Regions from separate parts of the Homo sapiens genome. Here all the other regions are linked to region 3. The links come from fine-mapping of genetic effects on gene expression. A gene starts in region 3. Each other region holds a variant in brackets. All regions are shown on one strand. Distances are between the middles of the regions.

Region 1 (5,294 bases), 62 kb after region 3:
CAGAGGCAGAATTTACTCTACATTTTATTATTCCATTTTATTTATTCTATATATTCAAAGTAAGGATTCTAAATCAAAAAGATACCAAAGCTAATGCATCCTGTAAATGAAGTGTGGTCTTGCCAAACTGCTTTTTGAGGTTGACATTACTATATTATATAGTAATTAGCAGACTGGCTCATGCACACATACACACATGCACACACACACACACACACCCTCATCTATAATATTTATTTGTCTCTACAATCATATCTATTCAGTTTTGTGTCTGAGGTAAATTTCCAGATAACAAATTTCACTTTTATAACTATTAATACTTCACTAATAATCTTAGTGAATAAAAAAAGAATTGAAGATATTTGAAGAACAATTTAAGTGCTGACTCTTAATAAAAGTATTAAGGGTTAGAGTTAGGGCATTGATTAGGTAGTGAAATTTGATTCTACTATATGTCTGCTTCTTAGATAGAGAATTTCAGTCCCATTCTAAGGCTCTCAATTCAATTAATAACTCTTCATTTATTTAAATTAAGTGGTGACATTCTCCTGCCTTTAACTTTGCTCTCCATGCTAATTATTGGCTCAATTTATTTAGAAGTATTATTATAGAAGTTTTGAATCCTAATAAGTAGAAAGAGAGACCAATGTGTGAGCCTAATTCTTTTTCGAAGTGATTAAGGTATTATTACTTTTTATTTGTTATCAGGTATCAGAACATTAAAAGTAAAATAAAAGAACAGACTTTATTTTACTGAATCTCTTTCTACTTAGGAATATCAAAGTGCTTAATGAACATGACTTTATCGAACCTTTATACCAACTTAGTGAAAGTGGATAAAAGTCAGAAACGTTTAGCAGCAGAGGAAACACCAATAGAGATTACATTGGAGGGTTCCATAAGACATTCCGGCCTCTGGTCTTATGCTTTCTAGTGTATCCTCCTCTATTACCAGGTTACAAAATATATATTGGAAAAAATAAGTGAGGGATCAGCCATCATTATAGTTTCCTGGGTTGCAAACAAACACCCAAATCTAGAGATTATTTCCATTTAGAAAGTAGAATCTCAAACATTCTTTTCTGGACAAACATCACTTTTGCAAAAATAGTCTGTATTTTTTTTGTAATTTTTATAGTGTTTGTGACTTTGATCAAAATCCCAGAATCATGTAACTTTTATATTAAAACAATAATGGCAATCTTAAACTGGGCCTCTGTGATATATCAGGCTACTTTTGTGACAACATTTTATATTCTGAATGATATCCTGGTCCATACATTAAATCAGTGATGCTATATTAAAGCGTAGGAAGATGGTATTCAGTCATTCATTTCATCATTTATTTTCTTCTCATCTATTCAGTGATCACCTGCCAAGTGCCAAGCTCTGCTCTACACCTTAGAAATTCCATGACAAACTAGACAGAAAATGTTCATGCGCTCTGCCATTCTGGTTCATTCTAGTGGGACACACAGCCCAACATCATAGAGTTACAAATGCCATGCAGGCACTTATAAGTAGGAGCTAACTAATGTGTACATGTGGACATAGAATATGGAATGATAGACAATGGAGATTCAGAAGGGTGAGCAGGAGGGAAGAGGGTGCATGATAAGATATTACTTAATGGGTACAATATACTTTATTTGGGTGATGGATACCCTGACATCACCACTACTCAATCTATACATGTAACAAAATTATAGTTGTACCCCATACATTTATACACATAAAATACAAAAATAAATTTTAAAATGTCCTGCAGGGAATTAAAATGTGATATGATGATGTCTGGGTCACTATGTTAGTGTGGGTGGTCAGGGATGACTTCCTCAAGGAGAACACATTTAAGTTAAAATCAGAATTGTAAGAAGGAACCATCCATGTGAATATCCGAGAGAATAATATTATGGCTGAGGAAACAGCCAGTGAGAAATCTCTATGGTAGGAAACAGTTCAGTGGGTTTTAGGAACAGAAAGATGAACAGAGTAGGTAGGCACAGTGGATGCTTGTATAAAATGACATTGGAAAACATTCTAGATAGAAATTCTTCTTCAAAGTAAGCATTCCTGTGTTCTAACACTTAAACAGTGTTAATAATACAAGACATTGGCTCCAAAATTACATTTTATTAAATGTTATAAACTAAGAACGGGTCAGTCAGGAAAACAACTGTCTTTTGCAATCAGTTTTTGCAATCTGTAAACAGTAGATTATATGTAGTGGATTTGAAAGCTCTAGGATGGTGTTTTTTTTCTCCTCAACAATTGGAAGTATTATTTTAATTGTGTGTGAAGTGTTAGCAATCCTCAGAACACCTCAGCACATTAGTTCAGTGTCTTCTACTCAAAACCAGAGGTACTTGAATCCTGGAGGTACTCCACCTTCCAGGATGGAGACTGGCAAACAGCAATAAAATAATAATTTCTTACCTTATAGCAACAAGCTACTTAATTCAGAAATTCCTCATCTGAAAAACTCAATTCTCTTGAGCAGTATCTTGACCTCTTATTGCATAGGCTTAGGAGTCAAATAGTCTGGGCACAAATCCTGACTTTCCCATTTTCTAGCTGTGTCGTTTTGGGCAAGTCCCTTCTTCCAGTGTCCTCATTTATTTCCTCTGTAATCAGGATGATGTACTTATCACAGGCATTTAGAAAAGCATCTTGCAAACAATAAATCTTTAACAGGTTATCTGCTTTCATTGCTAATATTCTTACTTTTATGCCCTCCCTTTCCAAACCATCTTCTGAAAAAATATGTAAGTCCACAAAGTTAGATGCAAGATGGTTGCCAATAAAAGTCTTCTGCCTTGAGGGCTGGGTGTGGTGGCTCACGCCTGTAATCCCAGCACTTTGGGAGGCTGAGGCAGGTGGATCATGAGGTCAAGAGATCGAGACCATCCCGGCTAACACGGTGAAACCCTGTCTCTACTAAAAATACAAAAAATTAGCCAGGCATGGTGGCACGCACCTGTAGTCCCAGCTACTTGGGAGGCTGAGGCAAGAGAATCGCTTGAACCGGGGAGGCAGAAATTGCAGTGAGCCAAGATTGCGTCACTGCCTTCCAGCCTGGACGACAGAG[T/C]GGGACTCCGTCTCAAAACAAACAAACAAACAAACAAAAAACTGCCTTGATCACTAGAATAGAGGAGGAAGCCTCTGAGATCCATTGACTGAAATGTATTTTGATATTTCATTTCTCTACTTAATTCAGCACCCCCCCCCACCATTTAATTAAAAATAATATTTATTGAACACCCATTAAACGCTAAATTCTCGGCCAAAAAGGAAAAAAACATCTTGTCCTGCCAGGAGATTTTAATCCAGTTCTTCAACTCTCAGTAGCTAAGAATTGGCAAACAAACAACAAAAGCATCTCTGCACTGAATTTTATGTTATATTGGTGAACCAATTTGGAATTGATTAATGAACTTTTTTTATGCACATCCTTTCCATGTTGTGCATAAATGTCCATGTGTTTGCTCTTTGGAAAGACTGGAATACATGCTTCATGGGACAATGATTTGTGAACATGTCATGAGAGAAGATGTACTTTTAATATTACTACACATTTATTTAGTCAACAAACACTCACTGAGTGCCTACAGTGCTACTACATTCTGGGTGAACAGGAACCAACAACACAGAAAATAAAATCCTGTATCTCCTGGGGATCACAGGCTTAGCTTCTTTGGCATGGAGGCTCAAATCCTGTTTCTGCACATTTCTAGAGGTATGACTTTGGTTAATTTACCTAACCTTTCTATACCTCAGTTCCCTCATTTGTAAAATGGGGATAATATCTATATAGGGCAGTTGTGAAGATTAAACGATGGTATATGTAAAATGCGTAGGACAGTACCAGGAGCATAGTGAGAATGCGGCAGGAGGCTCTGTTATTACTATAAATATTATTATCACTACTGCTCTGTGCTCCAGTGGTGTATTCTGTATATTTCATGCCCGATTCTTCTTTTCTTAAACGGGTCAGCACATCTTTAGAGTGGCACAGTGACAGCTTTCAGAGGGAATGTGGTCCTGGTACCCTTATCTTGTGTGGCTCCTACTTCTCACGCTCCATGTACAGAGTAGAGACAGCCTCTGTTTTTCTGAACTATTGAAATATAAACCAGGGTGCCAGTTGCCCCTTGCAGAGAATAGCTTTATATTTGTCTCTCTGTTGGCACCTTGCCTATTCCTTATCACCCCCACTTGGTCCTAAGTGCCTGTTCTGTCATGGTGGTTGCAGTTACCACTGGCTCTAATCTCTCTTCTCATCTATTTCTTTGCCTCTTACCACTTTCCCTAAGCTCCTTGACCGTGTGTTTCTAGATCTTCTCTGCCACAGAAAGCAGTCTCTCTTTTTTTGCAGGTGAGTCACATGGAGTATATTGAGTGGGATCTTGAATATTTCAGTTCTTGATGTAATTCATGTCAAATGTTAAGACATGACAGGCAGCTGCTGCACGGGGTTGGTTTCTCCACGGCATCCCATCCTACCCCTGTTTTCTCATATGAATTATTCTGAAAGCCTTGAGGCTGATCAGTGTAGATATTCCTATATTTTGGAAACACTACTTTTAAGGATCCTAGCAACTGATTTCTCCAACTTACATTGAAATTTAAACAATTTCCTGGTGCCTCCTGAATCCCTTTAAGATGTTGCAGTAAGAATGAGAGTTGTGTAGGCGGGGAGGTACATTTTATGGGCTTTTTATAAGAAATGATATCCTGTGTCCTGAATGTACCAGTGCATTAATGCCATCCTCATCTGTAGCAACAGTAAGCAGCCTTTTAGAGTGGTATAAATAGTCCATTAGGATAACCATAAATATTTAACTATTATTTACTTTAGATTCCATTGGCAAAGTAGCAGATTTCTTGAAAACCTCTCAGGTTTCTCCTAAATTGTTCTTTTCAAGGCAGTAAAAATGCTATGGTCCCAAACTGAAAATAACTGATTATTAATTAAACTACTAAAGACCAAAACAACTTTACTCACATTCCACAGGATTGGAGAGACAGGAAACAACTTGCGAGGTTTCTAGAAATTGTTATTTTCTTGTTAATGGTTATTTTAATTAGCAAAGAGAGTTTTGGAAATAGTTTTGAGCTTTACCTGAAACTGAATGACTGGAAGGTAAGTGCATTTGAATTATATTTGGTTACATGCATTAAAGGATAAATAATTTCTCTTTTCTCATGTGAAGCTTCATTTTGGTAGTTAGCTGACTTTTCAGGTAAGGAGAAGGACCAAGTAATCACCAGCTATAAAATACAAACATTTATCA
Region 2 (5,294 bases), 33 kb after region 3:
TTTGAAAATTATGTTGGAATTTTAAAGTTTCGTTCATTTGTTCATTAAGCAAATATTTATTGAACGACATACCAAGTATTGTTCTGTGCACTAAGGAGTCAATGGTAAACAAGAAGAATAATTATCTGTCTTTTTAGGGCTTACAGTGTAGTGGAGAAGATTTAAACAAGCAAATTTAAACAAGCAAATAAACAACATAGTTTCAGAGTGAAAGGTGCTATGAAGAAAATAAAATATTAGTAGGTGAGGGATAGAAGGTGATAGTGGGTGAGTGTCATCTTAGATAGATCAAGGAAGCCCTCTCTGATGAGGTATCATCTGAGCAGAAGGAGAGGGCCACAGCAAGGTCGTCTCTAGTGAAGAGCATTCTTGATTGAGGGCACAGCCAACATAGCTTGGCAATGAGCTTGGCATGAGTGAGGAGCAGCAAGAGGCTCCTATGTGTCTGGAGCCTAGTGAGTTGGTGGGGAAGGTAGAAGGATATATGTCCTGGCGGGAGATGGAGACCAGGTGAGGAAGCCTTGCGGGAGGTGGTAAATTGATTGGGTTTTATTCTGAATGTAGTGTGAAGTCACTGTACCATTCTAAACAGGGGAATGCTGTGATCTCATTCAAATCTGTTAAAAGGGCATTCCACCTGCCTACAATCTGAAGAACAGATTGTAATGGGGCAAGAGTAGAAGCAGGGTGATTGGTCAGGAAGCGATTGCCAGGAGCTGATGCCAGGATGATGGGGACTTGGACTAAAGTGGGGGAAGTAGAAGTGGGGAGAAGCAGTAGATTCGGGATGAGTCCTGGAGATCATGCTAAATGGTTTGCCCTGGATTGATTGTGGGAGAGGGAACAATGAGTCAAGTCTTGAGCCAGAGAAACCGGAGAGATCGTTATACCATTTCCCGGGATGGAGAAGACTGGGAAGAGCCCTTTATTGTAGAGGAAGGGAGTGGTGAGGATAAAGAATATAATTTTTGGCGTGGTTGCTTTGAGACATTGACATACACAGGTAGACAGGGAGGTCCAGTAGGCAAAGGCACACAGACATTTGGAGAGGAGATTGCTTTCAGAGGAGAGGTCAAGACTGGGGATTTGCCAGTCTAGAGATGATATTTAAAGACACTGGGGCTAGGCACGGTGACTCATCCCTGTAATCCCAGCACTTTGGGAGGCCAAGGCAGAGGATTGCTTGAGGCCAGGAGTTCAACACCAGCCTGGGAAACATAGTGAGACCCCATCACAACAAAAGTTAAAAGAATTAGCTGACATGGTGGCATGCACCTGTAGGCCTAGCTACTTGGGAGGCTGAGGCAGGAGGATCACTTGAACATAGGAGGTCAAGGCTGCAGTGACCTATGATTACCCCACTGTACTCCAGCCTGGGTGGCAGAGGGAGACCTCATCTCAAAAAAATAAAAATAAAGATGCTGTTCTGAGTGAGCTCATCTGACAGGAGTATAGATAGATAAAGAGAGTAAAGATAGAGAAGAAAAGGGAAGACTTAACAAAGAAAGTGCCTGTTTTCATTTCCGGATTCCTTTGTGCATGTACACTTCAGTCTCCCTCTATATGAATAAAAGAAATAACAACAACAATGACAAAAATAACAATGATGATAGCCAATTCTTTTGTGGTACTTACTATATGACAGGCACTCTTTGAAGTACTTTACATATTCATATATTAATTTCATGCAACTATATGATGTAGACACTACTATTCCCATTTTACAGCCAAGAAAACAAAGGTACAGGGAGTTTAAAGTCATTTGCTCAAAGTTACACAACTTGCATGTGGTAGAGCCAGATTCAGCCCAGGTTGTCTTGGCTTCAGAACCCATGTTCTCATTGATATTCTGTATTTATATATACAAAGCATAGAAATCACCAAGTATCATTTATCAATATAATTTGCAATTTTGTGAATAACAGTAATTTCAATTTTGAAATATTAGTAATTTTGAATTGCTAATTGTTCAAGCAAATATTTTTGCTAGAGTATATTTATATTTCTACAAGCCTGTTTAATACAGTTTGCACTTTACATTAAAAAGTAAATTCAGCAAACGCTTTAGGATACTACCCTTGACTAATAGTATTGCACAGTAAAAGCACAGACTCTGAAGCCAGTTTACCTGGGCTCAAATCCCAGCTCTGTAATTTTCCAGCTATGTTGAGAACATGACTTTAACCTTTTCCTGCCTCAGCTTCCTCATCTAAAATAGTACCTTTCTTATGGGCTTGCTGTAAAGATTAAATGACTTAATATTTGTAAAGTACTTCGAACATTATTCAGTACCTAGGTGCTGTGGTAGGCCTGTTAGTTAGGTCTGTTAAATAACTACATCTAACGTGCATAACTCTAGGTACAGGAAGTGAGGTTTCAGAAAAAGCAAATACTCTACTCTGTGCAGGTTACTTACTTATATTCAAAAGTAATTTTTTAACCCCAGTTGCTCTGTGCAAGTTAATTACTCATATTCAAAAGTAATTTTTAAACCCCAGTTGACTAGGTTACTCTGTTTCAGGAACCAGGAGTTGAGAACTGGGAAGTCAGAAGCAGGGTGTGAGAGGTAGAATTCTAGGGACAACACTACAAAGTCATAAAATGGAAAAGTCAGCAATTCTAAGTTATGGGATCACCAAATATTCAGACAGATAACCCAATAAAAAGAGAAATGCCTCTTAGGGTGCATATTGTCTTAGGAATTGAAATGAGGCTGGAGTGGAGTGGGATCGGGGGGAGAAGATATGGAAATGTTTCCAGGGGAATTTAGGGAAACTAGTAGAGTGCTTGTTACTACTCATCTAAGATGTTTAACTTGGCACTCTATTGCCTTTTTGATGTGATATCTTGATTGTTTTATTTTAGTGCAGCTGTATGATTATTTAATATCTCTATGGGTCAGTTACTTTAATAGTACCTTTATAGAATTGTTGGGAGTATCAAATGAGTTAATATAC[G/T]TAAGTGCCTAGAACAATGCCTGGCACAGAGGAAGAAGAATGTCTTTGTTCTTATACATGTGTTCATAGGTTCACCACATTCCCTGGCCCCTGTGTTATCCTATTGTTTTTCTCACTAAGAAAAACATTTTAAAATAATTAAATGCACTGGATTTTTCATATAACTTTTCACTTAATGAAGAGTCAAGTCTTTAGCTCATCCAAAGCAATAAAAAATCAACATAAAAACAATCCAAATGATACAAAAATTTGAATACATTTATGTTGACATTTCAGTGGGTAGACAGTAAAATTTCTCAGAGGCCTCACATTTTATTTTTGAAAGTATTTCATGTGCTTTATAAAATGATATTGATGAGTACAGTAAACTGATGATAAGTTAAATTCTCTAGGAGAGAAATTAATTGCATTTTAGTAATAATTTAATGGTCTGAAATTGCCTCACTTTTTGATGAAGTTGCAGAATCATATTTAATTCATATAGTAGATAAAATAAAGAATATTAATTGAAGCATCCTTGGAGATCATATTGTCCAACTCTGTAATACAACTAGTGATGTAAGTCCAAGTTCCAGAGAGGTTAAGTGGCTTCTTGTAGGTGTCGTACCTAAGGTGAAATGAGAGCTCCTGATTCTTAGTTTGTTCTTCTTTTCACTGAGTAACAGTGAATTAAATGAACTAACATTTATATCATGGTCTACTTACTAATTTTTTAAACATAATTGTAATCAACATTTATTAAAGGCTTGCTATATTCCAGGGACAGCATTAACTGGTTTTATTTTATTCTTGTAATAACTCTATGAAATAGGAGCTATTTTAATCTGCATTTTAAATATGAGAAAACTGAAACTTAGGGAAGTCAAGGAACCAACCTATGATGCCAGTGAGGGGATGAGCTGGGATTTGAACACAAATCCTCTGGCTCCAGAGTTCACACTGTTAAACACCATTCTATACAGTTTCACAGTTAAATGGGGCCAGGCAAAAATTGAAGCCTGGGCTGTATGCAGGTCTGCAAAATGGGTATCATAATAGAACCATATTTCCTCACTATTAAAATGGGAAAAATAGCAGCACCTATCTCATAGGGTTGTTGTGAGAATTAAATGAGTTAAAATAGGTAAAGTTCTTAGAAGAATCTTACACAGTGGACAGTCAATAAATGTAAACTATCCTGACTGTATTTCTTTGAAATCTATTAAAATCTTTCAGGGTTCACTTATAAGGAGACTGGTCCCTCTCTGAAACAGATCGTTTGAGAAAGTCCCACGTATATATGGAGATGTCCAAGGAATAGATTCATACTAATGTATACTTTTGGTGCTTCAGTTAAGTGGAAAGTGCTTCAGTTGAATGGAAACTCCAGACATTTTTTTCTGAATGATGTTCTAACAATACAAGAAGGGGAAGCTATGCAGTGTGCTTAGAATGTGATGAATTACACTCCCACCATCCCCCAAGTTGTGCTGATAAATGTGCAAGGGCAAAGAAAGTTAGAAAGTTGGATAAGCAGATCGATTGGTATTTCTTTTTGACAGAGTTCTGCTGCACCTTGAAATGGGGAATTTATCAATTCATTCAGCAAGGAATGTGTGCTTTTTCGTGGACAATTTTCTAGGCACTGAGGATGAATAAAACATAGCCCTTCTCATTGAGAATCACACAGTTTATATGATGTAGGCAAATATATCAGTGATAAAATTACTGTAGCACACAAGAAGTGGTAAGTGAACAAAGAGTAATGGGAATCCTGACCAGCCAGGGAGTACTGCCTGGAGAGCAGGGAAGCTTCATAGAGGAGATCTTTGTGTTGGCTTGGAAGGCCACGTATGACTTTCTTAGGCAAGGAAGATAGGAAAGTGTTTTCAGACAGAGAACCACAGTGTAAAGGTAAAGCTCGGTTGGGAAAACATAGTGTTTGGGTAAAGGCCATGTTGAGAAGGGGGTAAATAACACTGGAGAGGCTGTGCAAGGGTCAGTTTATGAGGGGCGATTTCAAATGGGGGCATGAGATGATCACTTTTGTGATTTAGTATAAGTCTGTAGGCCATGTCAGCTAGTAGGAGGGGCACCAGATCGATAACTGTCATGTTATATAAGATGAGGGAGTGAGAGGTGATGAGGGTCTGACTTCAAGACCACTGGCAATGAGGATGGAGAGGCTAGAGGTGAGAGATGCCTGAAGCAGAACTGGTAGGGTTTGATCACCAGTTGTCTATGGAATTAATTGGTGGAAAGTGAAAAACTGAAATTGATCCTACTGTTCCTGTTATTTATGTAGGTAGTGAACAAGGGTAATGGAACAGGTGTTTGCAGGGAAGCTGATGAGTTTAA
Region 3 (5,294 bases):
GCTATCTGCCCACCTTATTCTCCCAAAGTGCTGAGATTACAGGCGTGAGCCACAGTGCCCAGCCAAGATTTGTATTTTTAAAAACCTTTTATATTTGTTAAAATCTAACACTTTATGGACAAATTTAGTTTTAGAAAAGCTGGAAATAAACAACTTGCTGGGTATAGATTAGCCATTTAGAGCATTCATTAATTTCCAAAAATCATTTTGCATCACGGAGGTCCAAAGGAAAAATAGGCAACAAACTATATTTTAAAATCCAATGAAAGGCTTGAAGAGTCCCACGAGCTGAGTGATTTAAGAGGACAACTGTGATATTAACTTACTTCTGGCCCTTAGATGAAATATTTGCCCTTTTAGCATCAACATAATTCTGTAAATTATTATTAACAAATACGTAGATTTTATAATTGGAAAGAGCACAGTATTAAGATCATTTAGTTCATCTCCCTTCAGGCATGAATCCTCCTACCACCTACTAAAGGCGGTCACCCAGGATCTGTTGATTTGAATCACTTTTGATCATGGAGAAATCACTATCTTCCAAGGCAGCCATGCCTTATAATTCCACAGAAACCTTCCTCTGGGTGACTTTGCCCCATGACTGCTGCCTTCTGTCCTCTGAAGTTAGATATAATATAGTTAAACCTTCTTCCATATGACAATCCTTCAGCTTCGTCTGCCTAGATCCTTAGCCTCTGGGAATGTTCTCTACCTGTCTCTTTCTTCTGCAGTTATGTCTTTAGGTTCCTCTTCTAAGATTAAGATTTTTTCCCTTTCCCCATCTTTTCCCCTTTGTCTAGACTTAATGTCTCTTTAAAATGTGCTATTTTAGGAGGCTGTGCATTCTCCTGATGAAAGGCAAGAACGGCATCTTGTATTCTTTTTATTGTCCTTAGTCACGTGAATGCAAAATGTCTGAGACAGGTCTCAGTCAATTTAGAAAGTTTATTTTGGCAAGGTTAAGGATGTGCCCCTGACACAGCCTCAGGAAGTCCTGAGACATGTGCCCAAGGTGGTCGGGGGTACAGTTTGCTTTTATATATTTTAGAGAGACATGAGACATCAATCAATATGTGTAAGATGTACATTGGTTCAGTCCAGTAAGGTGAGACAATTGGAAGTGGGGGCTTCCAGGTTAGAAGTATAATAGACAAGAGACAAAAGGTTGCATTCTTTTGAGGCCATGATCAGCCTTCCACTCAATAGACAGTTTAGTCTGGCCCAGTGAATCTGCATTTTTTGCATAAACGATGGAGAAGAGAAAGCAATCAGATATGCATTTGTCTCAGGTGAGCCTCAGAGGGATGAATTTGAATAGAATGGCAGGCAGGTTTGCCCTAAGCTGGTCCCTTCTTGATGTTTCCCTTTAGCTTGGTGATTTTGAAGTCTCAAGATTTATTTTCCTTTCACAGCCATCTAACAGTGAAGCATGGTTTCACTTTACACTTGAACCACTATATCCACCAGATACAAACTTTGCCTCAAACACCACACTCACTTTACACAAACCTGTTGACATCACACCTAAGTCAGCTTTTCTTGAGCTCCCATATGAACAAATAAACATTCCTCTGATCTGCGGATATCCCGCCAGGAAGGGCCGGCTTGGGCAGTGCTGGCTCAGCTAGCCCGCCACCGCTACCATTGGATTTCCTCTTTCTCCTCTGATTTTAAGAAGTGAGAAAAAAAAGCAATTCCTGTTAATTATGTAGACAATGCAAGGGTCTCCAGGCTCCATTTCAGCAAGTTGGTTTCATCAAGATCACGAAAAGATGCATGCGTCCCCGAGACCAGAGAGGAGTTAGGGACCCCGACACGGAGGTGGCATCAGGTAACCCTCAGGAGTGAGGGTGGGGAAGAGGGCATGGCTGATGCTGGGAATGAGCAGCGCCCGCGGAGGGAAGGCCGGCGGTCCTGCGCCCCGGCGTGGACGCGCGCGGGAGTTCAGGCTGGGGAAATGGGTCACCACGTGCTACGGAGGCGGGGACAGGGCCCTCCTCCCCTTATTTGTAAAGAGCGCCGGAGCGGATCGCGGAGTTTCACCGCGGACCTGTCAGAGATACAGAGGTTGTGGGGGCGGGAGACAGAAAGAGAGAGAGATCCAGAGACCGAGTCTTACGTTGACACGCAGAGAGAAAGACGCAGAGACAGACAAACAAACAGATAGGAGAGGTGAGAGGCCAGCGAGTGCTTCCGATTAACTTGCCAAGCTCAGAGAAGATCCGGGGAGAGGGAGGGTCCCCTTTAAACGCGCAATCCCCAGGACTCCGGAAGAGCCCTTTTCTGCAGCTCCTTGGGGACTGCACGTCTCACTTCTAAGTTTGCGGCGGAGAGAATAAAGCAGAAAGACAGGAAGAGGAGGTGGAGTTCTACAGTTAGTGTGGTTTTAGTTTTTCCTAAGAAGTGGCGTGGTTTGGGGCTTTATATCCGGGAGGAGCATATGTACGCAAATCCTGGGGCGTTTGCAAACCCGGATCCGGGGCGTCTGGCCCCATGCCCGGCCGGGCGTTTGAGGGCTACTGCCACGCAGCGTTTCTGGAGCCTGCCGGCTGGTGCCCTGGTGGCCTTTATCTCTGTCCCCCTTTGTCCTCTTTATCTCAGGCTCTCCAGGAGGCCGGGGGGCCCACTCCGCCTATCGCTCCCCTCGGCTACGCTGCCACTTCAATGCCCCGCAGGTCGCGAGCTGCTGTTCTTTCGAAGGCGTCGGAGAACCAGGGGCGTCCCGCGCCACCTCTGACTCGGAGCAGCGCCGAGCACTGACGCTCCCGCCCTTGGGCAAGGACGCCAGTGCGCCCGCGCGCGTCCCTCTGCGCGGCAGCCCGTCGCGGGCCCTCAAGGGGAAGCCCAGGCCAGGATGGCCCCGGGTCGCGCGGTGGCCGGGCTCCTGTTGCTGGCGGCCGCCGGCCTCGGAGGAGTGGCGGAGGGGCCAGGGCTAGCCTTCAGCGAGGATGTGCTGAGCGTGTTCGGCGCGAATCTGAGCCTGTCGGCGGCGCAGCTCCAGCACTTGCTGGAGCAGATGGGAGCCGCCTCCCGCGTGGGCGTCCCGGAGCCTGGCCAGCTGCACTTCAACCAGGTAAGGCCGCCAGGTCCGGGCAGCCCTCCGTACTGTGGGTGTCCCTAGACTTCACTTTGTATATGAGCCGTTTTTATTTGGGAAAAGTGCAGGAGAAAGAATCTTGTTATATTTCTCAAGTAGAAGGCGGTATCTGGTGACACTTGCTTTTCACTAGACGAGGCTGAAGGATTAAAAGGTTAACGTTGTTAAGGGATTTGGCAGCCGGAAACTGCAGTTTTACGCCTGATGAACTGAGAGGTCCGACTCTGGTGATTTTAACATTTTATAGAAAACTTTATGAAGTAGTTGAGGGTGTGACGCCACTTTAACAGATGCTTTTTAGATAGGAATGAGTTACTTAAATCTTGCCAGAAAGATAACGGCTCGCACACTTCCTACAAGGTTAGCAAGGAAGATTATCACATGCCACCCTGGTTAACAGTTGCCCGGTGCGTAACCAGTGCTATTTGAAAACGAGATATAATGTAGTTCTGGCTCCTGTGTACATTACATGAGGCATTCAGGGCTGAAACAGGGGCGGCCTTGAGACTAAGATTCTAATTTGGTCATCCAGATGGTGGTAGACTAGGCTTATATTGTTAGTTCCTTGTCATATGTCAGGTCAAATATTTGATTCTAGTATTTATCCAAAATGATTAAAAAAATTTTTTCAGTAATAAACAGGGTACTACTAGGCATTTGGCAATACCTTGGGTTTAAGAACAAGCTTCAAACTACGTAGGAGCAGTTAAACATCATACCTCTTTGTAAACATAAAATCAAATTATTCCTAATTATTTCTATAATAAATACTCTGTGATTGGGTAGTTCTTAAAATTGTTAAGTAGACAAAGTGTAGTTTCTGCATCCTTCCAAAACTGCTCTCCGTCTTTTAAAACTCAGTTAACTCAGTGCTTTGACTTGTTTTCCTTTACTCCTGTCCCACTGACAGCTGATATTGGAGGGTAGAATACGGTATTTTCCATATCGTTTGTCATTTTTGGACGATGTTAGTTTGTTACAAGAAGTTTTTGGGGTCCAAGATGTTTGGGAAATGCTGCATATTATACTCTGCTCTTGGAAATTTGGCGTTTCCTAATGAATATGACTTTAGATTACAGTTAGGGAAACTGTAATCAAATAAATTCCATGTTAATAACATTATACGTAGATTGATCTTTTTGTTAGAAATATCTTACCACAATTAAAGTATATGGCTCTTAAGAAAAGTAGAACTTTCTGATGCCATGGCATGTCAGAGGTGGTCTCTCTTTGATCTAGAAGGGTTTTGTGGTCCCCTTATGCATGTTCTTTAGTAAATTGTCTATAATTCCAGTTCTGGGCATGGTATTTTATCTGGGGTAATATCTGAGAAATGATGTGTTGGAAAAATGGAAATGCCCACAAATTATGCTAATATTTAAGAAAATAAAGTGTTTGCTGGCTAGTTGCATTCTTTTCTTATCAAATAGGGGAAACAACTGAGCTGACTCCAGTATTTCCAGGTAGGTATGGTCACGTGCTTGGAAAGAAGTTTAGAGGATTGACTTGAAGCTGCATATCTGTAGCCCACACATTGTTTTGACTTGCATGACCTCCTTATCTTGCAGTGTCTGGAGGTGTTGATGAATTTTAAAGGGGCAAAAGACCTCCCCACATCACCTTTGCAAAGACATTGGAAAACATGCCTAAATTATTTAGGAAAATTGGTTAAGTGTACCAGTAATACGATTCTCTGTTTATTAGCAGGCAGGATGTCTCAATAGGTAAAATTATATGTATCTTGACACCTGTTTTCTCATTCTCATGTTTGCATATTTAACTGCCCTCATTATGGCCTCTGTGGGCATCAAAAAGAGACAGGAAGAAGCCCATAATTACCTTGGAAAGAAAAGGAAGCCAAGGAAAATTTACCACTTAATAAGCCTAACAAACATCTCTTTGATGTTCTTGCTTTTTTTTTGAGACTGAGTTTTACTCTTGTTGCTCAGGCTGGAGTGCAATGGCACGATCTCAGTTCACCACAACCTCCCCCTCTGGGTTCAAGCAATTCTCCTGCCTCAGCCTTCCAGGTAGCTGGGATTACAGGCGTGTGCCACCACACCGGGCTAATTTGTATTTTTAGTAGAGATGAGGTTTCTCCCTGTTGGTCAGTCTGGTCTCAAACTCCCGACCTCAGGTGATCCGCCGGCCTCGGTCTCCCAAAGTGCTGGGATTACAGGCATGAGCCACGGTA
Region 4 (5,294 bases), 380 kb after region 3:
TCTTTGGCAGCACATCTGTGAAGCCTCATTACACGCCTGCACGCTATGACACAAGTGTGACAAACAACGGGCCAGTTACTTGGGGCTGTATGTTTAGAATCCTGCTAAACAGAAAATTTTTAAATGATCATAGCTGAAATCCTAAGGAAATCATGTTTACTTCTTATATTTCACTCTGGGTTGACCCTAGGGAACATAAAACCAGATTCTACTGATCTTCCCTTATCAGATGTTTGGTTTTCTCTAAGCAAACATCTATCTGGGGAGCATGACAGGGTCATGACAGATTTCCCAGTGGGGACTGTGGAGACTGGCTGGAAGGCTATGAGTGAGTGAGCTGACATCCACTGCAGCCTTTCTCATTTTCTATTTAATTATCATGCCAAGCTGTGCAGGCTAACACGACTTTCCTAAAGTGAATGTTCATCTGAAACAAAGTTAAGAGTATCTTACGTCCAAGCTTGTTTGCTGTTTGGTTGTTGTTGCTTCCTCTCCCCTCCAGGAGAGTGGTGGTGATAGGACAAAGACAGAATAAAATGAAAGAAATTGATGAAAGAAATTGGGGATTTCTCATTTCTGAAACTTTTTCACAGTTACTTTAACTTTCCCACTTCTGATTCTTACAGGTAATTCCTAAATATTCAAACCATAGTTCATTATGCAATTGCCAAACTTTCTTTCCTCAACTTTCCATTTATTGTCTGCATTACTCTGACACTCGTCTCAATTGCTTAACTATAACAATATCCATGGTAATAGTAGCTACCTATTGAATCCGTACTATGCGCCAGCGCCTCGAATCTTCACAACAGTCCTCTGGGATAACAGTGCCTGACACGCAGAAGGAATTCAATAAAAAGTTCAACCTAGAGTCAGCTGGAATGATGGGAACTTAGAGGAGGAAACAGAGGATTAGAGAGGTGAAATAACTTACCCAAGATCAAGCAGCTGGTAAAATCCTTTAAAACTCAAGACTGTCTTACTGACTTTGCAGAGGCAAAACAGGTATCTTATTGATTGAAACTATTGTGGCATTGAAAACCATTCTGTACAAATAATGGGTCCTAAATACACACTCCCTATAGGAAGCCTTCATTGGAAAATAATAAATAATTTTACTGATCTCTGATTATATTAATTTTATTTGAAAATTAGCCTGAAAAGAGGAAATCTGAAATGGTCTCCTACCATTTGCTTTGCTGGTGTGGAGCGGGGGAACACCACTACTCTCCCTGCTGAGGAAGATTGGTTTCCAGTCTATCCATAGTAACAAATAGGGTGTCCATTTCATTCATCCTATAATTCTCTAGACATCATCTGCACATGTATACTTATCCCAAATACATTTGGACAGCAAATTTAGTGAGAGGGTCATTTTTTATTCAAATAAATATTTTCCTCAGTAAACTTTTTTTTTTACAAAGAAACTTTTAGGGATTTGGAAATATTTTACTTTGGAATGGAAGGCAGTGTGTTGTTATAAAATTACCAAAACTTTTAATAACTAACCAAAATTTTTCTTAGTTTATGTAACATTTATCAAGACTCTTTTGGCTATGCACATTAATCAAATAATATCTGAAACTTCACTTTTATCAAGTGTTTCTCATTATGCAAACTTTTAAACTAATTCATAATTAGTTGCCTAGGCATTTTCATTAGCCAGAGACACAATTTCCTTCCCATTTCACTTATAATAGCTAATGGTATAGTATGAACTCCTTAAGTATTTCAGATGACTTCGCTTTCTAGTTTGATTTTTTTAAAAAAAAGATCTTTGCTTTTCCATTTCTTCAAGGTCAGGTATAGAGAAAGCTATAGTTCAGGACTCTGGTCTGACCCTGTTCTCTGTGTTTTGATCTGATTCCCAGAGGAGGCACAGCATCCAATCTTTATCAAATACAAGAAGCTCCAAGTCATACTAAAGCATACTGAGAAGAGTCTATGGTAGAGACGACTCTCCTTCCAATGAGCTCAGATCTCAGCCATTATCTCACAACAGCATTCTTTGTTTTCTGAAACCCGAAACTAACAAAGGTCTGGGAAAGGGACATGGTTTCTCATCTAGACTGTATTACCACCATCACCTTTGGGTGTTCCCATTCTCAATAACATTTTAGCATCACATCATGTTCAAAATAGTCTTTCATTATTTTGCAGTCAACTTTTCTGTTTTCTTCTCAGGAGTAAGGTATCTATTTGTTTGGATTTCCCTCTCTCCACCTCCTGCATAAGAAATTTTCTAACATTTGTATGATACATGAGGGAAGAATTCTTGCTAATTTTTATCTTTTTCTCTGTAGTCCCCTGCAGTTTTAAAACATTTCATTTCACATTTCAATTGGCCTCATTTCCTTCTTCAGCAGTGCCCTTGTACTTTCGTTCTCTGGGAGCAGAGCCCCACCCATCACCTTCTTACTTGTCTGCCCCTCTAACTGCAACCAA[C/T]GGGGCATTGTTACTCTCCTCTCTACACCTCCCTTTGAGACCACATTTCAGACACTAGAAAAAAAAAAGTTTTCTGTACAACTCTACTTCACACTTGAATTTTTCTATGTAGACCCAAATCTATCTGAAACTTCCTTTGGACAGTCTGAAATATTAGAGTGCCATTTCAGCAGACATATCACAATGTTCTTTATCTTCTATGCCTACATTGAATATGCCATTTTTGTCCTGTGGCTGTTTAACAGTTTCTCTGCAAATGCCTCCCAGCAATTTTGTGGCTTCCTTATATATTTATTTTAACATTTGTCATATAACATTCCCTTCCCAAAGGTTAAATCAAGCTATTTCTTGCTGACAATCTAAATTACAGTAAATAAATCTTTTGACGTAAGACTCAATGAGTAACTAATGCCCCGCCCTCTCCCCTCTGTAGCCTCCTGTGTGGGCATTTCTTCTTATCATCTGTGGGTACCTTCCATGGATAAGAAATCATTGTTCACTTTTCTGTGCACATTTTCTTCCCTCCTTCAGAGACCAATATGCTTTCCCTCACTTACTAGAGATTCCTGTTCCTTCTATGCCAAGACTTGGTCAGAGTTTTCCCATCTCTTGTTTCTTCTAATTCTATGTTACTGCAGTTGGTTGATTGAAAACAGTTAAGTTTTATGCTGTTGAATCTTATTCTGAGTCATCCTAAAAGTCCTTTGTTTCCATATGGCTGTTTAATTTCAACCTCACTTCTTCTAATACTCTTCTTCTTTTTATTTCCCATGTTACCTTTTATACTTGCTACTTCAGATTGGTCCTTTCTTGGGAGTAATAATTAAGTTAAGGTTTAATCCAAAAGAAGAAGCATGTAAGAGTGGAATTCACAAAGTCTGGGATATGAAACCTGATTCTGCTATATATGAGCTGTGTGACCTTAAATCCTTCAGAGCATCGTTTTTTCAGTAAAAAAAAGCGACAAAGTTAGTATAAATTACAGAGACCTGGTGGGTTTATTGAATTGAATGTAATTTTGTCTGAACTTCCCATATATTTATTTTCTCTAAATACCTATTCCACACCCCCTTTCTCAATTTGTTTAAATCTATTATTCTCTTTTATGTGCTGCTCTGTACCTTTCAAGTTTTCTACACAGACACCATCCCATTATAATTCTTTCTCTAGAGACAGAACAGACTGTGATGTGGATTCTGGAGCCATAAACTTGGGCATGAATCCTGGATCTAAATTTTTTAATATCCTTTGCAATTTTCTTGGACTGTCTATGTCTCAGTTCCCTCATCTATAAAATGAGAATTGCAATAGTACTGATGTCATATGACTATTGTTAGAATAAATTAGTTGACACATGCAAAAGACAAAACAGTGTCACACACAGTAATTGCTTAGAAAACATGACTCCCATTTAACTGCGACCCCTTTGATGGCAACATTTCAGTTCCACTCATTTATTTCTCCTAAAAGCAGTACGCGTATTACCTTGAATACAGTAAGTGCTCAATTAACGATTAATAAATTGGACTAACGAGTAAAACTATCTTGAATGCTTTCTGGTTCATTTAGGACACTTGGGAAATGTTTGTTTTCCTTGTGACAACTTTTAATAATTTCCCTTCTGGATGAATAAGCACTGTTATTCTGATTTAGAGAAAGTTTGTCACAGAAAAGCTGTGTATTCAGCAGCCTCCTTGGGTGGGAGTCAGATGTACTGAAATCCAGGTGTTACCAACATTAGGCTAAGATATGCTGCTTCCTGAGCTGACTATGGGTCTTAAGCCCACAAATCCCAAGTCTCTCATCCTGGCCAATGGTAAATATTTCTTATCCTTGAAGTTGTCTTTATGTGATTTATTCTCACTTGGGAGCCAAGGCATGAGGTGGCTGATAGTTTGAAATGTGCCTGAGAGCAGCAATAGTCAACGATAATTTAAGGTTCCAATCTATTTCTAAATCAAAGTCTAATTAATTATCTTTGAATTAAAAGGCATAAGTCCTTGATAAACAAATGGCAAGCTACTTGCTTTTTTCCTCTTTACCCTTTTAGAAGCCTGTAAAAACTCAAAAATTGCACTAACCATACTCTATATTAACTACTCTCCAAGATGTCTATCACAACCAGATTCAATAATTTATTATTATTATTATTGACAATCAAATGACACACTTGTGGTCCAACTATTATTTTCATAGATAACAAACCAATGCCTTGCTCCCTGGCATTGAAAGGAGGCTTAATAAAAATTTTCTAAAACCAAAATCAGGTATTTTTTAAAAGCTTCCCTAAATCTTGTCCTCTATTTTGCAAAAAGGAAGAAGGAAGAGGAGGGGAAGATGGAGAAAATGTTTGTTAGAAAAAGGAAAAGTAGCATAAGCCATTAAGGAAATGGTTACAGATACTGTGTTTGAATAGCCTCCTTGAAGTGGTTCACAAAAAATAAATTTGTTTTTTAAAAATCAATAAGCCAATCTAATAGAACAGAAGAACAAATGAGTAAGAACAGTAACCTTATGTTAGGAAAGGCTTCTGATAAAACAAATGTTCTCATGGCATTTTATGTTGATAACTTCATTTGGGTTTGGTTAAGCAGCAAGCCACAAAGTGAACAGACATTGCCCATGGGGACAAGAGGATTATCAAAGCTTCCTGAATATCATAAGGCTATGAATTAGTTCAAAGTGCCTAGTTTAGCATGTTTCACACTATTATCAAATGAAAATTCCTGAAGAAAGGCTACATCAGTACAACAACTGGGAATTACTGGAATATATATGACATATTGGCAAACAGAAAACTCAGTGGTACCCAAGCATCTAGGCCTACCTCAGTGAATGTCCAACTAATA

Alleles and levels. Positions count from the first base shown, and alleles are read on the strand shown. Sizes are in standard deviations (SD) of each study's normalised expression.
As copies of C replace T in region 1, the expression in monocytes after muramyl dipeptide of the gene that starts at base 2,038 in region 3 goes down (large effect, 1.3 SD a copy in Kim-Hellmuth 2017).
In carriers of allele G in region 2, the expression in subcutaneous fat of the gene that starts at base 2,038 in region 3 tends to be lower than with T alone (moderate effect, 0.61 SD a copy in TwinsUK).
In carriers of allele C in region 4, the expression in lung of the gene that starts at base 2,038 in region 3 tends to be lower than with T alone (moderate effect, 0.56 SD a copy in GTEx).

The links. PIP is the estimated chance that this variant, and not a neighbour inherited with it, causes the effect. A credible set is the group of variants that fine-mapping cannot tell apart.
Region 1: its variant is the best candidate, but not a certain one, in a credible set for the expression of SLC39A8 in monocytes after muramyl dipeptide (Kim-Hellmuth 2017, PIP 0.84).
Region 2: its variant is the best candidate, but not a certain one, in a credible set for the expression of SLC39A8 in subcutaneous fat (TwinsUK, PIP 0.60).
Region 4: its variant is the best candidate, but not a certain one, in a credible set for the expression of SLC39A8 in lung (GTEx, PIP 0.59).

What each region holds. Positions count from the first base shown.
Region 1 is chr4:102,280,553-102,285,846 of GRCh38, reverse strand. The region is part of intron 6 of SLC39A8 (solute carrier family 39 member 8); the gene reads left to right. Among named protein-coding and RNA genes, the nearest start is that of SLC39A8, 62 kb to the left of the region's middle. The variant T/C (reference allele first, on the strand shown) is at 3,089.
Region 2 is chr4:102,309,714-102,315,007 of GRCh38, reverse strand. The region is part of intron 3 of SLC39A8 (solute carrier family 39 member 8); the gene reads left to right. Among named protein-coding and RNA genes, the nearest start is that of SLC39A8, 33 kb to the left of the region's middle. The variant G/T (reference allele first, on the strand shown) is at 2,958.
Region 3 is chr4:102,342,226-102,347,519 of GRCh38, reverse strand. SLC39A8 (solute carrier family 39 member 8) reads left to right here and starts at 2,038. Exons shown (of 9, transcript NM_001135146.2): 1 at 2,038-2,175; 2 at 2,605-3,076. The coding sequence starts at 2,858. RefSeq lists enhancers at 1,506-1,555, 3,456-3,515 and a silencer at 2,736-2,985.
Region 4 is chr4:101,965,715-101,971,008 of GRCh38, reverse strand. All of the region lies in intron 7 of BANK1 (B cell scaffold protein with ankyrin repeats 1), which reads right to left. Among named protein-coding and RNA genes, the nearest start is that of BANK1, 180 kb to the right of the region's middle. The variant C/T (reference allele first, on the strand shown) is at 2,446.